Homo sapiens: one gene and its partners. The protein of the gene in region 4 purifies or fractionates together with the protein of the main gene of each other region. This does not show direct contact. Each region holds a gene or a part of one and is shown on either strand. Other genes may lie near its edges. The genes, in order: TRUB1, NRCAM, NAB1 and MVK.

Region 1 (8,196 bases), on a different chromosome or scaffold from region 4:
GGATGATTTTTTTTTCACATTATTTGGTATTTTCTAAAATCTATACAATAAACAAGTCACTTTTATGTTAATAATAAAAAAGATATATTTACGTTAAGGAATTTGTTTGGGTTTTTTTACCAAGATAAAATATGTTGAGTTCATTGAGATATTCGTTGTTCACCCCTCCTCCCCCAAACCACAAACACAGCACACTATATATTACTGAAAGATTTTACTTGTAAATTTCAGGCATATTTTCAGAAATATTATGACTGAAAATGTAAATACATCATTGACTCTGGTATAAATTTTGTAACAGCCAATTTGCTGTTCAGCTACGAAAGCTGAATGTCATACAGTGAAATCACTGATCCTCAAAATGACTGTAACATAAATAGAATACCACAGGCACGTCTTGTTACAGAAACCTAGTTCTTAGGTATTTCAAAAATAGGCATCGTTGTCTTGTTAGCTATTTATATTTCTTATCCTTTTAATTTTATGTACCTGTTAAAAGAACTAAATCATTAAGAGTTTAATGTTGAAGATTATTTTTTAATAAAAAGTAGTTAAAAACTGTTAATAAATATTTTTTCTTTTTTTAAAAGCACTAGAAGGAATCTTAGAGATCATCTTATCTAGTGACTTTCAAAATTTTTTTGACTAAGACCCATAGTAAGAAACATATTTTATGTAATGACCATATAGATACATACATTTATGAAAAGGAAAAATTTTATCAAACAACTTTGTGTTAGTCTGTTTGTGTTGCTGTAAAGGAGTAGTCGAGGCTGGGTAATTTATAAAGAAAAGAGGTTCATTTGGCTCATGGTTCTGAAGTCTGTACAAGAAACAAGGTACTGGTATCTGCTTCTGGTGAGGGCCTCTGGAAGCTTACACTTGTGGCCATGTCGCATGGTGAGAGAGGGAGTGACAGAGAGAGAGGCGGAGGTGCCAGGCTCTTTTAAACAGCCAGATCTCGCGTGAACTCATTGCAGGGAGGGCACCAAGCAATTAATGCAGGATCCGCCCTCATAACCCAGACAATTCCCACCATGCCCCACCTCCAACACTGGGGATTATATTTCAACATGAGATTTGGAGGGGGCAGACATCCAAACTTTATCCAACTCTAACCCTATGTATGATGTATTCTTGATACTTTTCCTTCTATTTCATTAAAAAAAAAAATGTGGCTGCAGCCCCCTAACTTGGCCCAGATCTAATGTCCACTTTTTCTTCACTTCCTATTTTGACAGATGAATTTTTATTTGCATCACAGTGCAACTAGAAAAATTAGACTTCTGGTATGTGTAGGATGGAGTTACGTCAAGAGTAGAAATATTTAGTTCTAGGATGGCAAATATTCAGTGTTCTTGTTACAGCCATATTACAGAACAGCCTTCTCTCCCTAGCCAGTCGTAATTGGAGATATTGCTAATTGAACATGGCCTAACATTTCTTCTTGCTGAATCAAGAAACACCCTTAGAATCTTCTTCAACATGGTGCCACTTCATACAACTACTGTCACTTACTAGATGAAATTCTGGCTTTTAAGTAAAATCTTTAGGCCATCACATTATTTTGCTTCCATCTGTGAAGACTAGACACTAATCAGACCACCCAAATCATTTCTTGCATTTCCTCCCATTCAGATCAGGGTAAAAGTTAAGAAAAGAGCCACTGCTCTGTGTTCCTCATTGTCTTCCTCTCCTGCCTTGGAGTGAGCTTTGTTCTGCCAGTGATCATATTTCTCAAGTCTTTTTTTTTTTCCCTGTGCCTGATCATTTAGGATTATGTGTATAATGTGTGTGAAAAGCATGTGAACTTTTTGTACAGTGCCTTGTGTATGGAAATTGCTCATTAAATACTGTTATTACTATTCCCAAGTATTTTACTTATCCCCAAGTCTCTCTCTTGAGGTCCAGGCCTGTTGGAGCTTTCTAGCCACATGTTCTGTAGACACCTGAAATTAATTTTACTCAGGCAAGTTCTGTTGGAACTCTTGAATACAGTTAATTTCTTTTTTTTTTTTCATGGCTATCTGTGATTGCTGGTGATGTAGGCAAAATATTGCACTCATCAGAAAGAGAAAGCATGCCAGTTCTTTAAGGGAGAGACAGACTTTCCTTGGACATTAAAGCCAGAAAGAAGTTTCTGACAATAAGAGATATTAAATGACAGATAGATGGTGATTTTCAAAAATAGTTTTACAACAGATGTAGAAATGGAGCTACATAAAATACAGTTTAGGTAAAATTCTGAGAGGTTAGGCTGATGTGTTCCTTTGGCCTAAGTTGATCTAAGTATAAAACGTTGCTTACCTAGAGGAGGGCAAATAGCCCCTCTTATATCTTCCCTAAATTACACTTTCTTTGAGCCAGTCATTCAGCAAAAGCTGGATAGCAGATGTCGTACTTTGAAGGAACAGACAGAAGGAACAGAAGAAAACAGATGAGGTTTTGGAGTGCTGTCTTTATTAGTTTTCTATATTGTTGATCAAAGTTGGTTACTTTATAAATGCTTTAGAAACCAGATGGAAAGGTTATGAAAACCTGAATAATCTAACTAGCATGTCCAGATATAAAGGTACCTCCATATCTCTGTGCAGGTAAACCATAGTGGCACCTGCAGGCAAAGCCAGCATCTCCTCAGAAGGCAACTTTGTATCCCCCTCCAGTAGTTAAACAAGTGTCATCATTGGAGTGAATGAAGTTTCCCCTTCTTGGTGTGGTCAAAGGATAGTAACTTTCCCCAAGAACACAGTAACATTTTTAGGTTAACCAGTTATGAGAACTCTAAAGTGTGGCTTGAGTAATGCTCCTATGAAACTTAGCCAACTCTTGAAGATTTCAGCATTTCTAATCAGTTTTCTCCAGAGGCTAGTCCAGTTTGTACCTTTTCTATATACGCTATTAATTTTCATATATTTCATAAATACTGTATTGAAAATTTTAAAGGGCTTATACTTATGAACTATAAAAAAGGACTGTTCCTTCTTAATGAAGACATTCAAAGCCACATGTTTTTGGTTTGATAGGTTTTTTAAAAAGTGTTCTTTCTCATCCTCAGTAATATCCCTATTTTGTTTGTGAAGGTTTAAATCACAAGCTTTCAAAATCACACCTCAGTTGAGATCCAAGGAAATGATTGTGTGTATACTTTCTGTAGTAGAAACATTTTTCTTTCTCCTAAACAGAACAGAAGCTGATTTGCTGCTAGAGATGTCTAGCTAATACCTGCTGTGGGGTTTAGGGAGCTTGACGATGAGTAAAGTAGAGAGTAGAATAATACCAGTGAGAAACTGTGAGTCCCAGAGAGTACACAGGTCAATGGAATGTTCTTCAGGACCTCTCTTTTGTTGCAGTAGAATTACATTGTAATGAATACAGTAGTAGAATTCACGGTTCCCAGGTATACGTCTTGGAGAATTAACAACTCCAAAGCACAGACTCTACGTAGAATTTAAGCCAGTGAAAAGAAATATTTTAGACTCCATAAGATAAAATGTTAGGGTTGAATGTGTGTATCTCCATGTCTTTTTTCTTCTATCCCAATATCTTTTTGGTCGTGAGGCTTTGTTTCAGCTGAAGGCTTAACTGTGTGGGTGAATTTTTCTAAATGGTTTGTGGATAATTGAATAAAATTGAAGGATAATTATAACTAGATGCCAGGACAAGGGAAAGCTAGGAGACAGCTGATTTCAATCATCGGTTCGCAGGGTGTGGTCTAAGGACTCCTGAGACTCTTTCAGGGTGTCTGTTGAAATTGAAACTATTTTCATAGTTTTGCCTTTTTAACTTGCAATCCCACAAATACATGGTAGAGTTTTTCAGAGATTACTAGATGTGCAATGACATCATTGCTCTGATGGCTAATGGAAGTTTTAAACATTTTTCAGCTTTAATTTCTAATACAATAAATCTAGGCAGATATAACATGTTTTTAAAAAATGTGTGCCAGGGTTTCTCAATAAGTTTTAAGTGTGTATAGGAGTTCTGAAAGCAAAATGTTTGAGAACATTTTGATTTGATTTGATTTGAGAATGTTGATTTAGATATTGTCTCCCCTAAAAAGAATCCAGCACGTAGCTACATACAATATAATTGCAGACCCTGGAGTGGGTTGAGACTTAGCAGATGAAATCTAGATATTCAAAACTATGGTGAAATGTGAAGAATTGCACACATAGGCACTTCTCTAGCATGTGTATCATTCTGTCAGCAACTTTTTATTAAGCTGCTACTGTGTTTCTATTTAGGAAAGAACACAATAGATGAGCAATGGGAAACTCTAGCTGAGAGTTCATACTTGCAGAAAGTAAGGATCAATAAAGTATACTTGGAAAACAGTGAATATCTCTGTAGGTCATCATGTGCTAAGATGTGTGATATGTGTGATATGAGAGCTCAGTGAGATAAACCAGACATGTCTGTTGTTGCCATTATATCCAGTCCTCTCTGCAGTAGTTGTGTTTATTGAAGTTTTCCTGTTACACTGTAACCTCTTAGAGGGAGAGCAATCTATCTTATGTATCTGTGTATCCTTCCCTAGCACTTAGGAGAATACTTTGGACATTCATAGTCCTTAAGAAACATGATCGAATTTGTGGATTTGATATATGCCTTCCTTCTTTCTATGTATGGAATTTGTATCGAGCACCTACTCTTAGTCATGCTGTGGAGGTGGGTAAATGGAAGTTGGGATGGATTAAGGGGTGGCTTTGAAAGCTGAATAAGGTTTGATCCTTAGAGAAGAGTGGGAGTTCAAGGCCAGGGAAGTGGCATATGTGCCCCAGGTGCACAAAACACCAAGAGTCCAGAGACTAGAATGGGCATTGCATACTTGGGAAACATGTTAAGGTTCCTAGTTCAAACTCGTTGCAGAGCAGAATACTGCAGATACATTCAAGGCATAGTCTGCAAGATTGCACCATGGTTTTCTTATGCAACTAAACAGACTCTAAAGACAAAAAAATCATAAAGCATTTTGATGCTTTGCTTTCCTTATGGGAGCTGACTGTAACCAGATGAGTCAACTCTAGCCACTGTTAACTGCGAATCATTCTGTATTTTCTTTCTTAGAAAATAAAGATGATGATGGTATTATTATCTGTTATTTACCAGGGCTAGATATTGTTACTCTAAACTCTTTGCTTCTTCTCATGAGGCATTATTGTTTTCCACATTTTAAGATAAGGAAATTAAGCTCCAGCCGGAAAGACTAACTTGGTCTACAAATTGTGGTACAGTCAGAATTCAAATCCAGCCAGTTGACCCTGAGCCTGTGCTGTTACCATTGTTGTACTTCTCTCATACTTCCCCCTGTGGTATGCTTAGTCGAGGTTGATTGTCCCAAAATATAGAAGCAGGAATGGGTGTCTCAGGTGATGAGACTGTGTTTAGTTACAAAAAACTAATTTTTGTCAATACCTATGAAACTTTAAAAAAATTAATTGAAATGCGTTGGAATATTCCCTTCTGTATTATATTTATTTTTAAAAAATCTGAGCTAGATAATATTAAGGTGATTTCATCGAAGGGCCTTAAGCTGTTATAAAATGTCTGCATACTTACAAGGTTTTGAAGTTTTAATATTTTTCTCATTTTTGTCTTGGGTCCCTTCACTAGCCTCATAAATTTGTCATGAATAAGCTTATATTTCTGCAAAGTACTTTGAGTTTTCTTTTATAAAATTGCTCACATAAATACAGATTATTTTCAGTGGGAAATAAAGTTCTTGCACTTTTTTCACTACTTCATGTGATGCCCCAAATAAAATTTGCGTTTGACCAAAGTGAAAAGAGTACGTACTACAAGTGTGTCCTAAGATGAGAAATAAGACAATCCTCACGTAACTAAGAATGATCTAATTCTTCACTTGTGAATAAAGATCAGTTCTTAGAAACGATTCTTGTTCCTGAGATCTTAAGTAGTAATTTATCTTTATTAAGAAAACACATGGCCGGGCGTGGTGGCTCACGCCTGTAATCCTAGCACTTTGGCTTTGGGAGGCCGAGGTGGGTGGATCACCTGAGGTCAGAAGTTCGAGACCAGCCTGACAACATGGTGAAACCCCATCTCTACTAAAAATACAAAAAATTAGCCGGGCGTGGTGGCGGGTGCCTGTAATCCCAGCTACTCCACAGGGTGAGGCAGGAGAATCGCTTGAACCCGGGGGACGGAGGTTGCAGTGAGCCGAGATCGCACCACTGCACTGCAGCCTGGGCAGCGAGCAAAACTCCATCTCAAACAAACAAACAAACAAAAAACACATTTAATAGTTAAGTCACTAATTCTGTGACTATACTGGTTTTGCTCTTTTTCTACAGATTTAGCTTTTGTTTAATACATGACCTAGTTACTAAGAATTGTCTTAGTATTTCATGTAAGAAGTACTAAGTTGGCTTATTTAAAATTAATTTTAATTGTATATGTGGGAAGATTATTGAATCTTATGATGACCATGGAGTCAAGGCTATTGTACCATTCTCTCTACTCATGGATAGACTTGAACATTTTCCTTAAACAAACTTCTCAGTATAAAGGTGGTTTGAGAAATTTGCTTACAATAATAATGGTCATAATTATTAAGCCATAATTATCAATAAAATCAGGTTTATCTTTCTCATATTGGCTAGTGTGAGACGTTTGTTAATGTTCTTCAGTTTACACAATTGCTTTCCACATATTAAAAACAAAACAATTGCAGTCTGTTGTTTTAGCCTGTATTTTGTATCAGGTTGGTAGTAGTAGTGAAATTCTGTGTAAACTTCAAGACATGCATAACAGTTTTTGTTTGCCTCACGGCCCATTTTCTCTCTTGTTTCCCTTCCTCTAGAGATATACTGCCATTGGAGAACTGGGGAAAGCTACTGATACACTAGATTCTACGGGGAGGGTAACAGAAGAAAAACCTTACGGTATGAAGCTCATCTAATGTAGGCCTCTTTTCTAACATTTAGGAAAAGTTTCTGTGCAGGTAGCATTTTAAAACAAATCTCTGATATTATCAGCCATTTTAATTCTCAGTGTGTTTCTTTGGGCTAAGAAGATTGGAAATTGTTTATCGCATTGTTGCTTACTTGATAGGAGTTTTTGAATAAAGATTTATTGTGATTGCCTCTTTTTCTATAGTGATGTTTTAAGTGTTCAGAATTATTCTTCCAAATAACCTCCTTGCAAAAGCATGTATGGCTAGGATTTAGGTTATTTTCCCTAGTAAACGAGAAACAAAGCAGAGATACTCTGTTAGATTTCATCTGTCTTGCCATTAAAAAAAAATATATTACCTGTCAGCTGTTGAAATAAATGTACCAGGTTTAGTACTTTAAAACTTGTCATGTTTTTGTGCTTTCGGACTATGTAAAAAGAGGACAGAGGGCAAGCTATTTCTCTGGAAGTAAACCAGAACTCACTGGGGCCCACCTTAAGTTTCCTACTATCCCTTCTTTCACTACCGTAAGGAAGAATAGATAAATTAAATGGTCTCCTAGCAACTCTCACAGTGCTTATGCTGTTTATAATGCAGCAATTGCAGTTTTCTAAGTCAGTTCACCTGCATCATTATGTCACCAATTTGTGGACTGTTTTTTTGTTTAGTGTTATCTCTTAGTCATAGGCAAGCCAGCATTTGGCCCCCTTATATTTTTGTGTTGATTATCCTTATTACGTACTGCATATTGCCCCAGTAGTGAGGCCAACCTTTTTATTGTTCATAATAGCTTCATTTTTTCTGTTAACATTTATATGTAGCTTAGTATCTTGCTCAATTAATCAAGCAACATAATGAAAAGAAAAATTACTGATTGATTTCAAGGCTTTTCAAAAACAGATGTTGAAATATTCTTGGAATTATTATTATTAATAAATAATAGCAGACCCTCACTTAACTGAAAGCCAGCTATAACCTTCAACCAGAAGACTTTAAGATTAAGGAGGCATAGGGCAATAGGAGGACGTCAGAGACTTCCAGAGGATACTAAAGTATTTATAAGTACTTATGTAATTAAGTCTCCTGTATCTCTGACTCCATTTACCAAACCATAATAAGGAGAATGATTATTATTCAGAACAGTAGTCCTGGGGTAATATAATTAAGGCTGGGGGGTGTGGGTACCACGTGGTGAAAAATATAAGGCGCACTAGAGTAGACAAATCTGGGTTTAATTTCTAGCTCTGCCCTTATCTAGCTGCGCAAATTTGAAATTTTCT
Region 2 (8,196 bases), on a different chromosome or scaffold from region 4:
TCTAAACAGTTTTAGATTTTACCAAATCTGGTATTCTTTCTCTAGCATGCTGAATTTAGTTACTTAAAACTGTTTAGAATTAATCCATATATCCCTAAAAAGTTTAAATATATGAAAAGATGATCAAATTTTTTTCATAATAGGATAAATTAAATATAGTGAGTGCCATTTTCCACTAAACATATTGGCAATAATCAAAGGTTTAACACACTTCGTTGACTATGACACAAGGAATCAAGCATTCTCTGACTTTGTAGGAAGTGTAAGTTGGGACAACTTCTATATAAGACAGTTTAGAAAATCTGTCAATATTTAAGGCGCATACTAAATTTCACTTCTGGCAATTTATTTTGAATAAATGGGCTCACACAAATGGCTCAAACACACATGAGAAATAATTTACATTGTAGTATTATTTGCAATTGAAACAACCTAATTGCAAACAACCTAAACATCCATCAACAGGACACTGACTAAACAAATTACACTAGGTCCACACAATGGAATACTCTGAAGCTGTTAAAAATGACTGTCAGCCAAGTGCGGTGGCTCACACCTGTAATCTCAGCACTTTGGGAGACCCAGGTGGATGGAGTCCAGGAGTCTGAGACAACCTGGGCAACCTAGCAAAACCCCGTCTCTACAGAAAGTTAACTGGGTGTGGTGGCGTGCACCTATAGTTCCAGCTATGGGGGAGGCTGAGCTAGGAGGATCACCTGAGCCCAGAAAGTCAAGGCTGCAGTGAACCATGATCAAGCCACTGCACTCCAGCCTGGACAGAGTGAAACCCTGTCTCAAAAAAGAGAGAGAGAGAGGAAAAAAAAAAAAAAAGAATAGGGCTGTTCCATACGTACTGAAATGGAATGATTTCTAAAGTGTATTATTAAGTGAAACCAAGCAGCCAAGCAGGGTATAGAATCGTGTGTGCTGGATACTATGCTTGTGTAAATGTAAAACGAAATTACTACAACAAATAAACAGACATATTCACTTGCATATAAATGCATATTACCTCTCAGAGAATATAAACCTATAACATTGGTGTGGCCAGAGGAGCTGGGAGACAGGGGCGGGAGGAAGACATATTTTTCAGTGCATACCCTCTGCGTCCACTAAAATTCTGTGGTGTGTACACACTTTACCCTTGTAAAATAATAGGTATTTGGATATTCACTGATTGCCTACTATGTGCCAGGTACCATGATATGCACTATAAACACAAAGATGAACTAAAAATATTATATGTCTTGCAGTGGTTCAAAACTAAGTCCTTGGAGTTCTCCTTTCAATCCACATTCATCTTTGGATGATCTCCAGTCCTATAAATGGATGACTTTCATGTTTACATCTGTAGCCCAGACCTCTTCCCTGAACTGCAGACTCAGGAAGTCCAACTGTCTGCTCGACAATTCCACTTGGTTGTCCATGACAGCATCTCAAACTGGATAGTACCAAAACTAATTCTAATCTTCCTCTCCAATTGATAGTGACAGCCCAGGTCAAAATCTGGAATCCTTCTTATTTCCCTACTTCTTCCACACTCTCTGTAGTACAATGGCCTGTACCATTAAAATATATCCAAAATCTGACCATTTCTCAGCCTATTCCAGGCCACCCTCATCTCTTGTGTGAGTTATCACATAACCTCCTAACTCAGTAGTTCCCAAACTTTCTCGGTTCATGGTGTACTTAGTGTCTCCATAATTTATTTTTCATGGCTCCCTTAGGCCAAAAGAATTACCTAATGTTTTCAGGTATTAAGTAGCTAGGTTCATACATCTTTATATGTATTTATATCTTAAATAAATGTAAGCAATTTAATTTTAAACAATTTTAAATCTATTTATATCTTAACATTGTAAAGCTTCTCTTATATAAGTTCTCAAACCTTGTAAACAGATTGGACACCACCTTCCACATTTCCTATTCCCCACTGATTTCCATGTGGCACTTGCTTTTTATCACAGCAAACGCTTTGCAGAGATATAACATTATCACAAAATGACATGGGATATAAAGTTGAACCTGTAATCTGCCTCAAGCTAATTTCATGTGACGTTTGACAGATGTCACTGTGTTTTTTTAATATCAGAATTTAAAAGTTAAAACTTTAAAATTATTCCAAGGAAGGTACCCTGTGAATTCACTGAAGTACCACAGGGCACTTCAGTGCACAGTTTGGGAACCATGGTCTTACCCAGTCTGTCTGCTTCCCCTCTTGTTCTTCTATACACTATTTTCAATAGACAAGCCAGAGTTATTCATTCATCACTCCTCTGTTAAAACCCTCCAAGGGCTTTCCCATCTTCACAGTGGCCTACAGGACCTTGCACAATTCCCACTCTACACACCCACCACCGAACTCTTCAGCTCTTTGACCTTCTCTCCGCCCTCACTTTCCCTTTTTCATTTCACTGCAGCCACACTGGCATCCTAGCAGACATGCCCTGTCTTAGGGCCTTTGCTCTTTTCCTTTGCTCTTGCTGGAAAGTTCTTCCCCTAGACAACTGCATAGTGTGCTCACTGACCTCCCTCCCCTGTCTTGATTGACACATTCAAATGTTCTTTTAGTGTGGCCTTTCCTATTCACACTATTCACAATTATACCCCTAGCTCCACATGTCTTTCTGCTGATTTGTTTTTTGCATGCCCTAAACACATATAAACACAGTCATATGTATTAATAGATATATATGAGTTTGAGTCCTCTAGGGAGCAAAGGCTAAGACAGAATTAGAAGTGCAAGAGGTGGCCGGGCGCAGTGGCTCACGCCTGTAATCCCAGCACTTTGGGAGGCCGAGGCGGGTGGATCACGAGGTCGGGAGATTGAGACCATTCTGGCTAGTACGGCAAAACCCCATCTCTACTAAAAATACAAAAAAAAAAGTAGCCGGGTGTGGTGGCGGGCGCCTGTAGTCCCAGCTACTCGGGAAGCTGAGGCAGGAGAATGGCGTGAACCCGGGAGGCAGAGCTTGCAGTGAGCCGAGATCGCGCCACTGCACTCCAGCCTGGGCAACAAAGCGAGACTCCGTCTCAAAAAAAAAAGAAGTGCAAGAGGTCTATTTGGGAAAATGTCCATGGAAGAAAAAAGGGAGAGGAAGCAAGGAAGCCTGAAGGAGGGAAGACCTTCAGACCACAATGCTGGTCTGACATCTGTAACAGGAAGTGGGGGAGGGAAGGAGGAGTGAGTAGAAGAAGCCTCAGACTACAGTATAGTATAGCTCTGGGATAGTCTCAGCCAGGTCAACCAGGAGCCCAGAGTACAGTCTACACAGGAGGAGTTCTGCATTAGGCACGTGTGACTTCTGGGACCTTTGCTGTGCCCAGTCACTGGAGCACCCCAAGGAGCATGGCCTCACGTGAACTCTGCAGTGGAGCCTTAGAGAAGGAGAAGCAGATGGAGGCTGTGGGTTAACACTCCTTACAGCAGGTTCGCCCTTGAAGGTAGATCTGAGTCCTCTGTGTGTGTGTGTGTGTGTGTATATATACATATGTTTACATGCAGATATAATGAAATTATGCTTAATAATGTATTATTAATTTTATCTTATTTATATCCTCATCTAAAATATAAGCTCCATTACCACAGAGATTTTTGACTATTTTGTTTTAGAACAATGTCTGGCACACAGTAGGCACTCAAAAATATCTGTTGAATGAATGAGTAAATGAATGAAAGAGTAGAAATGCCTTGAAATCTAATGGTATTATTTTAATATAGGAAAAAAGAGTCTCCAAGCCATCTAACCAGCTAACTCTGGCTAATGTACCCAATGAGCTAGAAGACTGGGCCTGGATGAATTTGTGTTCTGATCAAGGACATTGAACACTCAAGTAGGGAAAAGAGCACCATTAAACAACACAAGATAGAGGAGGGGCTTTTGTTAAATTTTAGTGGAAATATTCTACTTTACCAGGAGGTGCAATAAATCAACACACCTATCATTTCAGAATCATCTTAGGTAGTCATCAGAAAGGAATTGTCTTCCTGCGGTATATGCCTGAAGGTAATAATGTATTTCAGGCATGTGACCTGATTGTGTCTGCCTCTTAAGTATCTCTTTGGTTTTACAATTCAACTTCGAAGCTTACCTATAGTCTAATTTTATTATGCTCTTCTAGTATCCTTATGACATTGTCCTTCCTTATCTTATTTCCTAGGCCCTAGGCTTGTGTCACCAACGTGAGAAGCTCACATTGTTGAATGGGCAACTTTGTAGCAGGGACTAATGGAAAGAAAGAGACCTAGGTTGGAAGTTAAGGTAGAACCTGTTATCTACGCCCAGTTCTGTTACCAACAGGGGGTTGAAAAGTTACTTTACTCATCAAGTATCAGTTTCCTAATAGGAAGACAGAGCTATTCAGCACTTGCTCCTCCTAACATTTTCTCCCAGAAGAAATGGGCAAAATAAACAACTAACTTAAGGTGTATCTTCCTACATGGTAGATATTTAAAGTGATTTTTATGGATCTTAAACACAAATGACAGTGTATTTGATTAGTCAACATCTTCAGCAATTAAGGGGTGTCCTATTCTAGAAGGTGTAACCAGGAATAGTTTCAGCTCTGAAGAGAGGAAGGACATAAATAAATATTTTTATTCTATCAGTAATGAAGCAGAGAATCCCAGTAAATACCTTTGTGAGGAAATTCAGCTGACTGTTACAAAGTGCTTCAAACATGGCCATTTAGTTGATCGGAAATAGAGCAAATAATACCACATACTTGTAATGGGGCTATTGTTGTCATCGCCTGGGGTCCATGACAGCTGAACACTTTTGTCAAGTTGATCTGTCAGTTCTAAGTCAAAGGGAGGATTTGGGACATCTGTAGACCAAACATACACACATCATGGTCACGCATCCATCTTTAAGAGGCTCTCCTTTACTCGTGATACTATTCACAGAGGGGACATCTTAAAGACACAGCACACTTGATAGTCAATGAGCATGCAACTGAAAGGAAATGTGCACAGCTGAGGCTGCTGGGAACACACGAACACACACAAGATAACCCATCAATGAGTTCTGCTCACTTGTTTTTCAAAGGAAACGAAAGCATTTGTAACCAAACCCAGTGAAGCAGACACATGTGGTTCATCAGCACTCTCAGCGTTTCTTCTCATAAACATGAATGGGCACAAACATGAAAAATAATAAGCTTAATTTCTAATACATGGGAAATAGAGAAAGCAACTGCTGAAAAAAGAAATACAGGCAAATAAAAGGTGCTGTTTAAAGAAAATTCAAATGTTCTTTCTAAAAAAAATGCTGAATAACAGATTTTGGGGCTCTGAAAGAATATTTATATTTGCGAAAGAATGCTGAAATAGATGCTATGGAGGTAGCCCTCAGCATGCATAAGTGTGTTTACTCCCAGAGGACAACAGTGTATAGACAGACACATGTCGAGATGAAGGTGTCCTAGAAGCATGTCTGCCTCTTCTAATGGTGCTTCTGAGATCCAGAGAGTTACTGTTCCCCCCAGGCCTTTATTTGACCTTGCTCCTAGGAGTATCTCTGGCTCTTAGGGGACCAGAGACCATACAAATATATGTGCTTTTTTTTCTTATCAGTCATAAAGCAGTAAATGTCTACAAAGCACAGGTTTTATATTGGATAATTAGACACAATATTAATAATATTGTGCAAAATCAGCTGAGATGCCAAAAATTGATTTTTGTATTGACGTACTGAATAAAGATGAAGGTTCTCTAAATAAAAAGATTTCTGGAAATGATTTCTGACTTATTTTCCAGATTCTAAAAAGCCACACAACATAAATGTGCCCCTCCTTTTGGTCTTTCTTGAGTGATTTGTCTTTTGTTAACACATGGTGAGTCGGTTTTCTCTGATATAAAAGTTAAATGTTGTTCTAAACATCTATTTTTCCCCATATACATTTCTTGAAAATGGAATCCCAAAACAAGATTTTTCCCAAACAACTTTTAATAAATTGAGATGAAAGCCTAATTTGTAGAATGATATTAGAAATAGCTTTTTCATTCTGTAAAATGTGGATGATGGCTTTTGAAAAAGCACTATGCTACTTTAAAAGGAAATTGCATCAAAGAGGGACTTTTATCAAACGAAGTGATTTTATAATAGCACATGAACTATTTAGAAAGAACTGGCAACGAACTTGGTGAAAAATCTGTGGTTATGATGAAGAAATGATTCATTGTCAGTAAATGGGTGACACAACATAACAACTGACAGAGACCTTTTCCTTAAGAAACACAATTATGTGACATAGAAAAGAAAGTTATGAATACTTTCTGCAAATGTGAAATTGTTTGACAGAAAACAGAGAAAGAAGACTCATATTAGTTTACCGTAAACGGGAGCTGGAGTTGGAGTAGGAGCTAGAAAGGACATTAATATAAAGGATTTTAATCAAAATTAGTAATGGAAAGATACAAGATAGCACAAGATGACAAAGACTGTACATTATTCAAGGTTATAAAATTAAGCCCTATGCTTAGCTGTGAGACACAGCATTGATAAACATGCAGTAACAATTTAGGAAAAAAAACCTTCAATTTTAGATACAAGTAGATCATTTCTCCTTATTTTATTACAAAAAAGGTTACTAATGTGCATATCCACCATTTCACCCAGTGCTGCTACACAGTCTATTTATACTGAAATTATTGCCTCCAAGGCATCTTTCAAAGAAGAAAAACATGGGTATGAACTCACCCATGCATATTAACAAGCAAATATTTGATATTTATAATTTTTATCTTATTTTTTCTTTTCAACCAAATGCAGGGAAGCCAGTTGTGCTATTTTTGTTTTCGTTCTTACCAACAACGCTAAGCACAGCGCTGGCGGAGACGCTGTCCAGAGTGGTGTTGGCCACACACGTGTAGGTCCCGCTGTCATCGTCACTGACATCAGCTACCACTAGATGATCCTTGTCAACAGTGAACCTGTGGATAGAATGCATTCAGAGCAGCTGAAATGGACATGCAGCCGTACCCTATAATTGCTTCACTGGCAGGAAAAAAACTGTAAATTTGATAAAGGAGAAAGATGGTAAACACTTTCAAAAGTTAGAGCAAAATACATATCACTTTAAGAATGATTAAAGTTGAAAAACAATGAGAATCAATTAGAATATTGGGTTAGAAGGGATATGTCCTCTGGCACAGTATTTTTCAACCAGGCCTCTAGAGCACGGGTCCCCAAACCCTGGGCCAAGAACTGGGTACTGTCCTGTTAGGAACTGGGCTGCAGAGGGGACCGCTGCTCTAGAGGGTGTGGTAGGAGTTTCCTTAGGCCCCAGGGGAATGGGGCGAGTGAAGCTGAGCTCCGCCTCCTGTCAGATTAGTGGCAGCATTAGATTCTCACAGGAAGGTGAACCCTATTGTGAACTGTGCAAGTGAGAGATCTAGATCTAGACTGTGCTCTCCTATGACAATCTAATGCCTGATGATCTGTCACTGTATATATTACATGTAATAATATATATATGTATATACATATTACAACATAATAATAATAGAAATAAAGTGCACAGTAAATGTAATGTGCTTGAATCATCCTGAAGCCATTGTGCCCCCACCCTGTCCGTGGAAAAACTGTCTTCCATGAAACCAGTCCCTGGTGCCAAAAAGGTTGGGGACCACTGCTCTAGAGGGAGAGGAAGGAGCTTCCTTAAGTTCCCAGGGGAAGGAGGCGAAGAATAGTTCCAGCATTAGCCTTACTAAAGGGCTTTACTAAGGCTTTTGCTGCCAAGAAACATTGGAAAACCACTCATTCAGTTCAATTTCTATCAAAGTATATATTTTAAATACTTTATTATTTACTGCAGAAAATCATGTCATTTTCTTACATGTATAAACTCTCATAGGAGAAATTAAATGCAAAGAATAATAATTTGCTTTATCACTAGAAACAGGAAGATTTAGATGAACAATCTCTCTAAGACTTTTCTAGAGGGAACTTGTGGGCATGAAAAATTGCTCAGTAGATCAAAAAATTAATGTATAGAGAATTAGTGTATTATTTTAATGAAACTGCCTAAGTCATAAACTGTCTTCTCAGTTAATTTCCAAGTAAAAGCTTCAGCCACCTTAACCTGATGGTCATTTCTTTATGTTTCCTTTTAATCTTAAAGACAGGGTCTCACTCTGTCACCCAGGCTGGAGTGCAGTGGTACAGTCATGGCTCACTGGAGTCTCAACCTTCT
Region 3 (8,196 bases), on a different chromosome or scaffold from region 4:
CATGCAATCATTCCATCCAGAATGACAATATTCTAATATACATTATTCCAATATTTCAGTGTACATATAAACATTAAGTATATATGTACATACAAATTTGTAATCTACTTTTTTCAGTTACATATGCTATATTTTTCATTTCTACCGATGTATTAAGGCAGAGACGTGGCTTGTTTACATTAGCATCTGGCATGGGCTGGAAGTTCAATATATATCTGTTGACTGACGAATGAATTGAAAAATCCTTTATAATATCACTTTTACTACCCACACATACAATATTCCATTGTAGAAAACAACCATATATTATTTAAACTACCTTCACTCTGGACATCAAACTACCTCCAGTTTTCCATAGACTATTTAAAAAAAAGCTGCATAAGAGATTCTTAAATGTGTACCTTTGCACACATATCCAATTATTTCTTTGCAATAAATTCCTACAAATAGACCAGTTAGGTCACAGGGTATACTAAAATTTTAAGAAATTTATACATTCCACCTAACTACCCTCAGAAAAGTTTCTCTAAATCATAATGCTGTCAATAATTACATGATGAGTCCATTTCCTACAATCTTGACCAACACTAGTTATTATCTTTTTAAAACTTTACCAATTTTATATTTCTAAAACAGCATTTGGTTGTAATTTGCATCCCTTTGACTATGAAACTAAAGGTTTTTCTTACATCTTTGACTCATTACAATGTTTCATGTTCTTAGAACTTCAGGAATTCTTTATTAACAGCATTAACTCTTCATCATATGTAATGGGATTTTTTTTTAAGTTTGTCATTAGCCATACAGTTTCTATGCCTTGGGTGACAGGCAAAGAAAATCTCTTCCTACTCTAATAATATATAAATGTTCCATAATTTAGTCTAATCGTTTTACTTTTCCCACCTAAGTATTTAAACCATCTAGAATGTGTTATGGTACATGGTATGATATAGATATTTAACATCCTCCTCCCCAAATTTATAACTGTAATTTATATTAATTTGTTCTGAGACAATTAATTTGGCCACTGACAGCAAGTTATAATAATAAACCCAGGTCTCCTATTTTAAACCCATAGCTGAATATGAAAGCATAATTGAAGGAAGAATTTATTTTCAGCCTTCTCCACTCCTCCTAAAGAGTCATCAATAGATAAATTCCTCCCCTAAGTGCCTTTGAAAGGCACAATGTTATTGGAGTTAAAAGTGAAATGTATACTTTAAATAATGATATTCAAAATAAATCAGTTTCAGCATGGCAGTAGCTAAATGACCTTGAAGAGGATTCTCAAATAGCTTTTTATGTAGCGATTTATTTTTCATATTAATAAATCTAAATTACTAAGGAAACCTCTGATTTTCAGTAAGATGTTTTAACTGACAACATTTCAGAGGTACTAGCTTATGCACAAACACAGAAAATAACTTTTCAACATAAACTGAAAACAATATTCTAGTATTCCTTCTCTTACCTTTCCAGAAACCAAGAAAAATAAACATAATGCATTCATTGTCACTGAATTCAGGCTCCCACAAACCAAAAAAGTAGACTAAACTCCAGGCCCTCAGGGAACCTGGTAAAAAACTGAGGCTGGAGAAGTAACTCTAGCTCACCCCCAAGTTGTAATAAAAAGCTGATTCATGAAGCCTCTCCCTTAAAAACACGTGTTCTGTCAGAGTTACCTAGATTTCATGCTCCCTAGCTGCTAATAATGAACACATCAATAACTATCATGATATAATTACAAAAGAAAAATGAAAATATTCCCAAGCAGTTGGGAAAATATGAAAATATTCCCGTCACTTGCAGCAGCACTGTTAGCTTTTTCTGAATGCCAATACTCTAATTTTGTTAAAAGGATAAAGTAACAAGATATTCTCCCTTACTGGTTTACTTATTTCCTCCATTTCCTCTTTTTGTGGCCCAAAATACCAAAATTCCACCATATCTTTATGTGAAAGATTTCTTAAAGTTCGCTTCCTTTTTCTTTTTTTTTTGAGATGGAGTCTCACTCTGTCTCCCAGGCTGGAATGCAGTGGCGCAACCTCAGCGCCCCGGGTTCAAGCGATTCTCCTGTCTCAGCCTCCCAAGTTACTGGGACTACAGGCATGTGCCACCATGCCCAGCCAATTTTTTTGTATTTTTAGTACAGACGGGGTTTCATCATGTTGGCCAGGCTGGTCTCGAACTCCTGACCTCAAGCAATCCACCCACCTTGGCCTCCCAAAGTGCTGGGATTACAGGCGTGAGCCACCATGCCCGGCCTCTTAAAGTTAGCTATCTTTTATAACCGGACTTAAAAACTGGACTTACTACAGTTATCTTTATCCTTAAGAAGAGTGGTTTACTGATTCCTAAAAAAACTTTCTTTACAGGTTGTTAAAATTATAATCTCCAACAATTAAATGATTGTGACTTTAAGTACTGTTGGCACAAAAACACTGTGAACAACTGTGTGATAGGGAGGCTCAAAAGGCAATCAGGACTTTCATTTCCAGCACTGGGAGGGCTAGGTACCATTACTGGCCCCTCTCAGAAAAAAAAAACTAAAAATGTTAAATAAAATAGGGAGGGGATCATCTTTTAAATGCTCAATGAGCTGATGAGAATAAGGACATTGAGGCCAAAATTAATGAGTACAGTACCTCAAAGAAGTTTAAGTTAGGGACAGTCGCTAAACTTGATGAGCTTGAGTTTCAATCTTCATGGCCTCATGGGGTTGAGGAGAATGGGAAGGAAAAAAGAGGCAAAGCCCACAGCCCATCAGAATTGAAGAGTCTAAGATGCCTCCTCCATAAAGCTGAAACCTCACCACACACACCCAATGTAAGGCTGAATTAGAAATACGTCTGTACCCCCAGGAGAATGCAAAGAAAATTATCTGTCTTGAACCCTAGTAATGACTGGGAGAGAACAGAAGATACTCTCTTAAGATTTCATAACCCCCAATCAACCATAATTCACACTAAGTGGGCTGAGAATTTATTTTCATAGGGTCTTAGATTTGTAATGTCCCCAGATGCCCAGTAAAAAGAAAAAGCAAATAACCTCTAGGGAATTCACTTTCTTCCCGGGACTCCAAATGTTCTCACAGTTAAAGTTCCAAGAAATATGAATTCACATAAATCATAAAACATCAAAAGAAACAAGGCAACAAAAGTGAACACTAGTAGAAACAACAGACAGCAAAATCAGACCCTCAAAGACTTCATTTGAAGAAACAAAGGGATTTGAAAATACGACTAAAAAGCAGTACAGTAAAAATAACCACGAAACTTGAGAATCAGGAGAGGAGAATTGGACAGAAACAAGATTTTAAAAGTACACAATAAATAGCAGAATAACCACTAACTTTTTTTTTTTTTTTGAGATGGAGTCTTGCTCTGTCGCCCAGGCTGGAGTGCAGTGGCATGATCTTGGCTCACTGCAAGCTCCGCCTCCCAGGTTCACGCCATTCTCCTGCCTCAGCCTCCCGAGTAGCTAGGACTACAGGTGCCCGCCACCACGCCCCGCTAATTTACACAAAGGTATCTTTAATTACTAAGGGAAAACCACTAACATTATAGAATTTAATACCCCAAATAAATAGTAATTAAAAATGAGGGCAAAATAAAGATATTTTCCAGTAGGTAGGGAAGGACAGAGTTTGCCACCAGTAGGCCTTCATTAAGAAAATCCTAAAAGAGCTTTCGATAGAAGGAAGCTAATCCCAGATGATAAATCTGTACAGAAAGTATATCAGGGCTAGAGGGGAGATACAAATAAAATAATGGAAAAAAATCCAAAATATTAGTCATATAATAAATGTACATGGACCAAATATTCCAGTTAAAAAACAAAGCATGTCTGACTGGGTTCTTTAAAATCCAACTGATCAGTATTTATAAAAGATATATATAAAACATGGATTCAGAAAGGCTGAAAATAAAAGGATGATATAAAGATATAATAAGGAATAGACCAGGTGTGGTGGCTCACGTCTGTAATCCCAACACTTGGGGAGGCTGAAGCAGATAGATCGCTTGAGCCCAGGAGTTTGAGACCAGCCTGGGCAACGTGGAAACCCTGTCCCTACAAAAAAAAAAAAAAAAAAAAAAAAAAAAGGAAAGAAGAAAGAAAGAGAGGAAGAAAGGAAGGAAGGAAGGAAGGAAGGAAGGAAGGAAAAAAGAAAAGAAAGAAATTAGCTAGGTGTGGTGGCACATGCCTGTGGTCCCAGCTACCCAGGAGGCTGAGTGGGAGAATCACCTAAGCCTGGGAGGTCGAGGATACAGTAAGCTGTGATCTCACCACTGCATTCCAGCTAGGGTGACAAAGTGAACCCTGTCTCCAAAAAAAAAAAAGATATAAAGATGTAATAGGCAATGACTAACAAAAAGAGAGCTCATGTATTTATATCAACATTAAAGAAAATAGCTTTCTAAAGCAAAATACATTATTAAAGGTTAATAAGATTACTGCGTAATACAAAGAGAAACAGACAACACTACAATCAGTAAAATTTTAGTACACAACTCTTTTTACTGACAGAGCAAGCAGACAAAATAATAGTTAAGAATATAAGATTTGAATGACAGAATTAATAAGCTTGTTAGAACAGACACATATAGAACACTCTACTAACAACTGCTTAAGATATCGTTTCCAAACGTAAAAAACACAGACCACAAAATGAATCATAACTAAACTCTCAACAAATTTTAAAGGGTTGGCATCACACAAACCATGTTCTCTTGCCCTCAATGTAATTAAGTCAGAAATCATTAGGAAAAATAAGGAAAAAAAATTACTCATATTTGGAAATAAAGAAACACTTTTAAATAACACATGGTCAGAAATCATAAAAATAATTAAAATTGAAAAATAATAAAATAACCTCATAACAAAACTTTGGGAATAACACTGAATCAATACATAGTGAAAATTTATACTTTAATTGCTCATATTAGAAAAAGAATGACTAAAAATTAATGAACTAAGCACCCAAATTAAGTTAGATAAGAACAATAAAATAACTAAGAGAGGAGACAAATATATACACGTGTACAGCACAAGCAAGAATAGCAACTAAGCCCAGAGTGGCTTCTTCAAAAAGATCAGAGGTTGGCAAGCTTTTTCTGTAAAAGGCCAGAGAGTAAATATTTTAGGCTTTACGGGCCAAACAGCCTGTGTCACAACTACTTAACTCACCATTGTAGCTCAAAATCAGCCACAAACAGTACATAAATAAATAGGCCCAGCTGTGTGCCAATAAAAATTTATTTATAAAAACAGGAGGTGAGTGAGACTGGGCACACAGACCCTAGTTTGCAGATCTCTAAAAAAGAATAAAATTGGCAAACCTTTGGCAAGGTTGGTCAGGAGCTAAGGAGAGATAAGTGTACAATCAATATTAGGTCAATATTAGGTCTTAAAAAACTATAAATAACTTTACGCCACTAAGTTTGAAAACTCAGATGAAATGGATATTCTTAGAAAAATGTAACTTACCAAAATTGACTCAAGAAATAGACTACCATAATTCATTTTTAAAAATCATCAGAAGGAAAAGTCCAGCATTTCAAGTGTTAGATGCTGAAATCTATGAATTCTGAGATTGAGAGTTCAGAATAAAACAAGCTAACTTAATAATGTGACCACGTTTATGCGGTTCTCAGATTCAGCATTCCTCCTCTCTCAAAGGTGAAATTGCTGGCCTCCTCTGAAACACTCAGCCTTGACTTCTCAGCACTATAATGGAAACTGACCTAAGCTTGGCATCACTGTTTATTCTATAGGCCTGGGTCCTTATCTTGGTAACCTGCTCAGCACCCCAATTCCTGCAGAGTTTCTTCTGCTCAGCTTACAGTTACCCGCTGACTACATTCTCCTCTTCTCCTTCCTATCTTTCTAGAGCTCTTTGACTGGAAGCTGCTATCTGCTGACAAATATTCTGTAATGCCAAATTATCTACCTGCTTACATTTCTGAGTATTACAAGTTTCTACATTCTCTATTGCCTTGCTGTTCCCAAGTTTTAGTTGCTCTCTCCTCATCCATTCACTGATTTAACATTAGGGGTACACTGCTTGCCTAGTTTACCACCTACTATCTATTAACACCCCTTATGATAGATGCAACATTGCCTGCTGGCTTTTTTCTGATATCGCCTCTGGGTTTGTCCCTTGGCACCTGCCGAACACCAGCAAGGTGTGTGGTTCTAAGCTTCAGCCCTCACTCTCTTCACAATCTGACACCTATAAAACAGACTGTACTTAGCCAGGCTGTAGGACTATTGCTGATTCTTTAGCTTAAAAAAAAAAAAAAGAGGGGCTTAACAATAAGTCATTCCATAATTCTTTACGGTGTACATTTGGAAACAAATTATGTTATTATAAATATATAAACAAATATTTTCTTCTTCTTACAAGAAAAATAATCTTATGTACTTGAACAGTTGAAAAAAACTTACAGGTATAGATAGCTTCCTGAATTTCATCCACCAGTGACCTACATACAGCTCTATGTCTTGAAAGATTAAGAGAACAGTATCCACACAATTTATATGAAGAAAATCCTCAGAACAGTGAGATTAAGCCAACAATGAATTAAGAGTAAGTCATGTATTCCTTATGTGGAAATTGAGTACAAACTAGCAACATTCTTTAATCTCAGGAACTTAGAACTAAAAAAACTTCTGCTAATTTTAAATAATCAGGAGAAAAAATACAAAATTCTCATAATACCTAAAAGATATACCTAATAGTACCTTCTTTCAATTCCCCCAGGATTCTGTAATTTCTTCCAAGATCTTGGATAGTTACTAGTTTTAAGAAAGCTTCCTGATTCACAAACATTTATCCTAAACTATATTATTGGACCAGATTCACATACTGGAGTACAAGTAACAAGAAGGCCTAAGTTAAGTTTCAAAAACACAAGCCACAACTTCCAAAGCCCCCACCCCCACATTTCAGCCTACTGGCATTCATTTTGAGTATTTCCTTATTTTGTGAAATTCATGGTCTCATCACTTAAATATCATATGTACCTACTTATCTAAAGAGGCAAAGAGCCCCTTAGCAAAAGCTAAGTGTAAAATAATTCTTTTTACATTTTTTAAAAGTAGGGTATGATTTTTTTTTAAGTCAGGTTAACTAGGTTTGTTAATCTTTTAGAAATACTTTTACTTTGATAAAAAACACATGTATTTCGACTCAACTTTGTATTTCATCTGCTATGTTTTAAAAATTATAAGAAAACTAGGTTAAAGCATGAAACTAAAATTGCCAACACATTTTGCCTTTTGTTTTTCTACTAATGACAGCCATATAGCCCTTTTAGTGGATTCCTCTACTGGTTCAAAGGATACTCCCAAAATAGATCAAGTCACAGGCTGGCTATGACTTAAGTAATTCTGCTAACCAATTATCTGATCTCAAGCTCCAACATTCATGTCTAAAATCATTTATTTAAAAAGATCAGGCTAGGTACAGTGGCTCATACCTGTAATTCCAGCACTTTGGGAGGACAAGACAGTTCTATCAGTTGAGCCCAGGAGCTTGAGACCAGCCTGGGCAACAATGGAGAAACTCCCATCTCTATGAAAAACTTAAAAAATTAACTTGGTGTGGTGGCACACACCTGTTGTCCAAGCTACTCAAGAGGCTGAGCAGGGAGGACTGCTTGAACCCTGGAGGTCCAGGCTGCACCCACTGCACTCTAGCTTGCGTGACAGAGTGAGACCCCCATCTCAAAAAAAAAAAAAAAATTAGCTATGACATAGTCTTTTTAACTTTTGAAAACGCATTTATTTTCCAAGCACTTATTGTGTACATTTGACTCTGGGGATATAAAGATGAAGGAGACATTATCTCTGCCTTGAAGAAACCCAGAGTATACTGTGAAGCACAGACCAGTATACAAATAAGTACAATAAGAAGTTAAAGTTATTGTGACAAAAGTATATGTAGGGATAAAAATGGAAAGGAACGGTCATTCTACTTGAAGGAAAAGATTACAGAAAACACAAGCTTATTCTTGGCTGAGTTTTAAAGATATGTGTTGACCAGATAGACAAGAAAAGGAGTAAATGCCAAAGTTTATACACACACGTGAAGTATAATGTTATATGGACAAAATGTTATATCTATACACACATATACACACACATGAACTTAAGCAGACTATGTCTAGAGTACTATAAAGATAAAATAAAAAT
Region 4 (5,068 bases):
GCAAAGCAGAGGGGAAAGGAAGGATGAAGAACAGAGAGGAGGAGATAAAGACAGAAAGAGAAAGAAGGAAGGAAGGAGGGGACAAGGAGCACAGAGGGAAATGGAGGCAGGTGGGACCGGTTAGTGCCTACTGTAGGCCAGGAGCGAGCCTGAGGGCAGAGGTAGGTGTCAGGTGGTTAAACACTAGCAGAAGCCCCTTGCCAGGCCCCCAGGCACCAGGGAGCTTCCTAAGCCAAGCCCATTACTCGGTCTTCCTCTTTCCCCAAACCAACGGGAAGGAAACCCTTTCGTTTTGTAGCAAAATCAACCGCATCCTGACCACATCAAGGGTACAAGTGGGGCAAGGTTAGGCAGACGTGGAGAGTGACAATGCCCTGGTTACTTCCCAAGCTTGTGCGGACAGCCCCGATGACAGGAGCCCCAGCCACAGCCCAGCCCTGCACCAGGCTCTCTAGGTGCACTTTCCTGCTTGAATCTGGGCAACGATCTTGCAAGCTAGATACTCTCATCCTTATTTTACCAATGAGGAAGCAAAGACCAGAGGTTAACTAACTTGCCCAAGGCCACACAGCGGAGCTGAGACCTGTTTCCAGGTCTCTTTTTCCTTTCAAGGGAATTCTCCAGGTGGACCCCTCTTAGGAGCCCAGGCTGGCAGCCTGGCCCACCTACCCCCGGGATACCTGGCTTGAGGAGTGTGATGCCACAGCCACCACCGCCTGCGCCAGTCAGCTTGCTGTGAAGTCCGCGGGCCCTGGTCACCTGGCAGAGCTGGTCCAGAGAGGCGTGGCCCACGCCGAGGGCATTCAGATGGTGCTGGTTCATGTCAATGAGCTCCTAGGGGAGAAGGTTCCATCTGTTCCCACTTGGCCTGCCTGAGGCCAAGGTCCTATGCCCACCCCTGAGCCTGCCTCGTCCATCTGACAGTTGTTGGCTGGAGACAGCCAACGGCTTTGCCTACCTGGCACCCTGGCCCTCTCCACTTGTAAAAGAATCCTTCTGCCCTGCAGCATTTCTCACGGAGCTTGGGTAGAGCTGAGCATACCTTCACCACAGCAGTGAGCACATATCCTAGGGCTGGTCACAGAAGCCTCTGGCACTGGTGACTGATCAGGGATGGGCATGTGGTCCAAGCTGGGCCAATCACAGCCCTCCCAGGGTTTCCTCTGCCCCTTCCCACTAGAGCTGCTAAAATAATTAACTTCAGACACAAGTCGCCAAGATGACCTATCTTGCCACATGATCAGATATTACGTGGCAGATGGACAGATTCCCGACACATTGTTTCAGCCCCTGGATTGAGCTATACCTGAAGCCATTTACCTCTGGTCTTCTCAGTTGAGAGCCAATACATTCCCTTTCTACAAAAGTCTGGTTGAAATGGATTTCTGCCATTTGCAAGAGAAAAAGTTTCAAATAACATGCCTCCCTACAGCTGCCTTGGGGACTGGTTTCAGAATAAGAACTAGGTGTAACTCCAGCAAGGCCATAAGCAGGGAAACAGCTGTTTGTCTAGGTTTCTTCAGTTATGCAGGATAAACTTCCTGCTCTTTAAGGATCCAACAAGATGCATGTGGATGAAAAAATAAAACTTCACAGCTTCCACTGCCCAGGCACCCAGTAGTTAGATTTCATTTACCAAACACCCACAACGTGCTGGGGCTCTAAGGATGGGTGCCCAGCCACGGTCCCAGCCATCAGGAAGTAAAAACCATGGGATTTGGAGTCAAGTAGGCCTGTGTTCGAGTCTCTGCTCTGCCCCTTTTTGGTCGTGTGTCCTTGAGCAAGGTCTTCTGCACTGGGTCTGTCTCCTGCTTGTAAACCGGGGTCATAAGAGTATCTGCCTCAGCAGGGTGTGGTGGCTCACGTCTTTAATCCCAGCACTTTGGGAGGTCGAGGCGGGTGGATCACTTGAGGTCAGGAGTTTGAGACCAGCCTGGCCAACATGGCGAAACCCCATCTCTACTAAATATACAAAAATCAGCCACGTATGTTGGCGTGTGCCTGTAATCCCAGCTACTCAGGAGGCTGCGGCACGAGGATCATTTGAACCTGGGAGGATGCAATGAGCCAAGATTGTGCCACTGCACTCCAGCCTGGGCGACAGAGCAAGATGACTCTGTCTCAAAAAAAAAAAAAAAAAAAAAATCTGCTTCTTTGCCCTGAGACGAAACAAGGTGAGTTTTCTGTTCAATGCCTGGCACGAGATATGTGCTGTTAGTATTTTTATGGGTACGTTAGCATCATCCCCACTTTACAAAAGGGGAAACAGAGGCTCAGAGAAGAAGTGACTTGCCCACGATCACTGAGCTAGTAGGTACCAAGCTGGCACTGGAAGGCGGGTCTGCCTGACATGAAGCTCCTGTCTACCCTGCCTCTGAGAGCACCCCCTGGCATTCCTCACTTCCGTGTGAAGCTCTGTTCCGGGGCACCTGGATTGCCTGTATACCAGGAGTTGCCAATCACTGAGGCATCTCTGCGGAGGCCCACCTAGCTCTCCCGCATGGGGATGGCCGGTCAGGCAGGGTTGGAGTGGCCCTCCCCAACAGCCTGCCTCATACCTCGCTCTGCGCCAAGCTCACCATTTTTGACAAATGAGCAGACAGGCATGATGGCCTGGTGGCAGCCCCGGGTGCCTCTCACCAGCCTGATGGGCTGGATGTGAGAGAAGACTTCTGGGGGCCGCTCTCTGCGCCTGAGCACCAGGTGTCACGTTGCCGAGGCAGGTTCCAGACACCTGTCACATTCTGATCCAAAATCTGTCAAGGATCAGATGACAGGTTGTGACACAGGAGAACAGTTCGCTGGTTTGAGTGCAAAGCTGTCCAGGAGCTGAGCTGCACATTTCAGCGGCTGCCACAGCCAAAAATACACACAATGTATAATCAACGTGCTGTTCTGTGGCATTCTCCAGGGACTCGACAGGGTGTATTTTAGGCAGTATTCTATCATTATTGATTTCCTACTCGGGGGGACTGTGTTCCCTCCTTTCTATGTGGAAGGAATTGAGAGCTAGGAAGACAAAGACTGAGGGAATGAGGGCCGAAACACAGGAATTCGATGGAGGCGCTGCCCTGGCACATAGTAGGTGCTCATGACAGATCTGTTGAATAAAGGGACAGACCAGTCCGTCGGCTGGACCCCTGGCTCGGCCACTCACTAGCTGGATAACCTTGGGGGAAGTCTCTCTTCAGGCCTCAGTTTTTACATCTGTAAAATAGGGATAAGACACCTACTTCACAGGGAGGTGGGTGTGAGGATCAAGTGAAAAGAATCATTTGTAAAAGGCTTGCTTTAGTGGCAGCTTCCACTCAGCACAGGGGCTACAGACTCGAATGCCCACGGGGGACCGGGAGACACCAGGCAATGACTACAGAGTGCGGGGCGCGGGGAGGGACTGTGGTGACATGGAGACCGCACGCCCCTCTCCTGTCCCTTCACTGACGGCTGCTGCACAGCCACGGCAGCTAGGGGCCACCCGATCCTCTCATTCTGCAAGGGCAGCCAGATGGCTAACAGCCCATATTCACCAGGCCAGGTGGACTGTGTCCAGGGGGAGCCTGGGCTCTTTGGTTCCCTAAGCTCATAGCACACCAGACATTGTGCTTGCGTGTCACCCATGAGACTCCAAGCATTTTTTGTGTGTGTGTGAGACAAGGTCTCATTCTGTCGCCCAGGCTACAAACTTGACCTCCTGGGCTCAAGTGATCCTCCTGCCTCAGCCTCTCGAGTAGCTGGGACTACCGATATGTACCGTCATGTCTGGCTAACTTTTGTATTTTTTGTAGAGACAGAGTTTCACCACATTGCCCAGCCTGGTCTCGAACTCCTGGACTCAAGCAATCCACCTGCCTTGGCCTCCCAAAGTGCTAATACTACAGGTGAGCCACTGCGCCCGTCTAATCTGAGCATTCTTAAGACACTCTAGCGAGGCCACACGTCCAGCAGAAGTGGAGCTGGGATTCACACACAGGCCTGATCACACCCAAAGTACCAGGTCACAACCTCTACACTAGAATTATGCAAATGGCAGTGGATGGGGTTGCAATGATGAAAAAACAATGTTAGGATCTGTCTGACCCAAAGCAGGCAGTTGACAAGTAGTTGTTGAATGCACCCATGAAGTTAGCAATAGCAGGAGAGTGACCAAGAAGTCACCCCTGCACCGACAGAGCACTCTGCATCAGCCACATCCCCATCTACCTACGTGGGCCAGAGCTCCTTAGAAGTGACCCAAACCTGTTTCCATTGCACTTAGCACGAGCCAGGCCCTGGCCTCCCTTGCACTCTCCCAATTACTCGGAATCACCCAGGAAGAGGCCTGAAAATAAGATACGCTTATATGGCACGCACAGACCTGGGCCCAGCTGAGAGCATAGGCCAGAGGCAGGTCCTGACCTCTATGTGCTAGCTTCCGGGGGATTCTGAGCACAGCCAGATTGCAGAGCCACTGCCTTGGACAGTGGTGTGGACTCAGTAACCCCGGTTCCTGCAGACAGGCTCTTACTTCCAGCACGAGGTACTGCTCCGGGGCTGGGGCTTCCCCCATCTCTCCCAGCACGCGCTCACACTCCAGGGAGATGGCATCTATTGAGGTCAGGAGGGGGGCCACGATCTCTGGGAACTGGAGAAAAAAAGAAGGAACGGCTGGTGAGGCCTGGGGGCAGGCAGATGCAGGACAGCTGCCCCAGCAGTGGGGTGGAGGGAGGAGGTGTTCACACAGCCCGTGCCCATCCTCTGGGGAAACCACCTCTCTTCTGAGCCTGTTTTTTTGCCTTCCCAGCTGCAAAGTCAGTGTGTCTAACGAGCCCGACCACTGTCATTTTCCTGGCCAGGCTACGGGCACGGACGGTACCTTCTTTTCTGCCAAAACCACCTCCCTAAGGGCCCCCACCACCCACCACACCCCCTATAACCCATCAGCCAGAGGGAGACCTCGAAAATCCAGATGTAATTGTGTCCTGGCCTTCCTGAAACCTGCCCAAGAAGGGAACAAGAGTCACCTTGAGCAGCCTGTTTCTGACGCCAGCCACAAGGGCCCTGGTATTGCGAGGGACTTTGGTGTTGGTCA

What was found.
Region 1: the proteins of MVK (region 4) and TRUB1 fractionate together in Homo sapiens (co-fractionation; one large-scale study listed by BioGRID). This does not show direct contact.
Region 2: the proteins of MVK (region 4) and NRCAM fractionate together in Homo sapiens (co-fractionation; one large-scale study listed by BioGRID). This does not show direct contact.
Region 3: the proteins of MVK (region 4) and NAB1 purify together in Homo sapiens (affinity purification with mass spectrometry; one large-scale study listed by BioGRID and IntAct). This does not show direct contact.

The regions. Positions count from the first base shown.
Region 1 is NC_000010.11:114,952,903-114,961,098, forward strand, and holds part of TRUB1 (pseudouridylate synthase TRUB1), read left to right. Parts: intron 1-6,823; coding exon 6,824-6,905; intron 6,906-8,196. UniProt on the Homo sapiens protein: Pseudouridine synthase that catalyzes pseudouridylation of mRNAs and tRNAs. Mediates pseudouridylation of mRNAs with the consensus sequence 5'-GUUCNANNC-3', harboring a stem-loop structure. Constitutes the major pseudouridine synthase acting on mRNAs.
Region 2 is NC_000007.14:108,184,920-108,193,115, forward strand, and holds part of NRCAM (neuronal cell adhesion molecule isoform A precursor), read right to left. Parts: intron 6,935-8,196; coding exon 6,810-6,934; intron 6,365-6,809; coding exon 6,335-6,364; intron 4,828-6,334; coding exon 4,726-4,827; intron 1-4,725. UniProt on the Homo sapiens protein: Cell adhesion protein that is required for normal responses to cell-cell contacts in brain and in the peripheral nervous system. Plays a role in neurite outgrowth in response to contactin binding.
Region 3 is NC_000002.12:190,660,494-190,668,689, reverse strand, and holds part of NAB1 (NGFI-A-binding protein 1), read right to left. Parts: intron 1-8,196. UniProt on the Homo sapiens protein: Acts as a transcriptional repressor for zinc finger transcription factors EGR1 and EGR2.
Region 4 is NC_000012.12:109,590,794-109,595,861, reverse strand, and holds part of MVK (mevalonate kinase), read right to left. Parts: coding exon 5,001-5,068; intron 4,622-5,000; coding exon 4,505-4,621; intron 835-4,504; coding exon 681-834; coding exon of another isoform or gene 670-680; intron 1-669. UniProt on the Homo sapiens protein: Catalyzes the phosphorylation of mevalonate to mevalonate 5-phosphate, a key step in isoprenoid and cholesterol biosynthesis.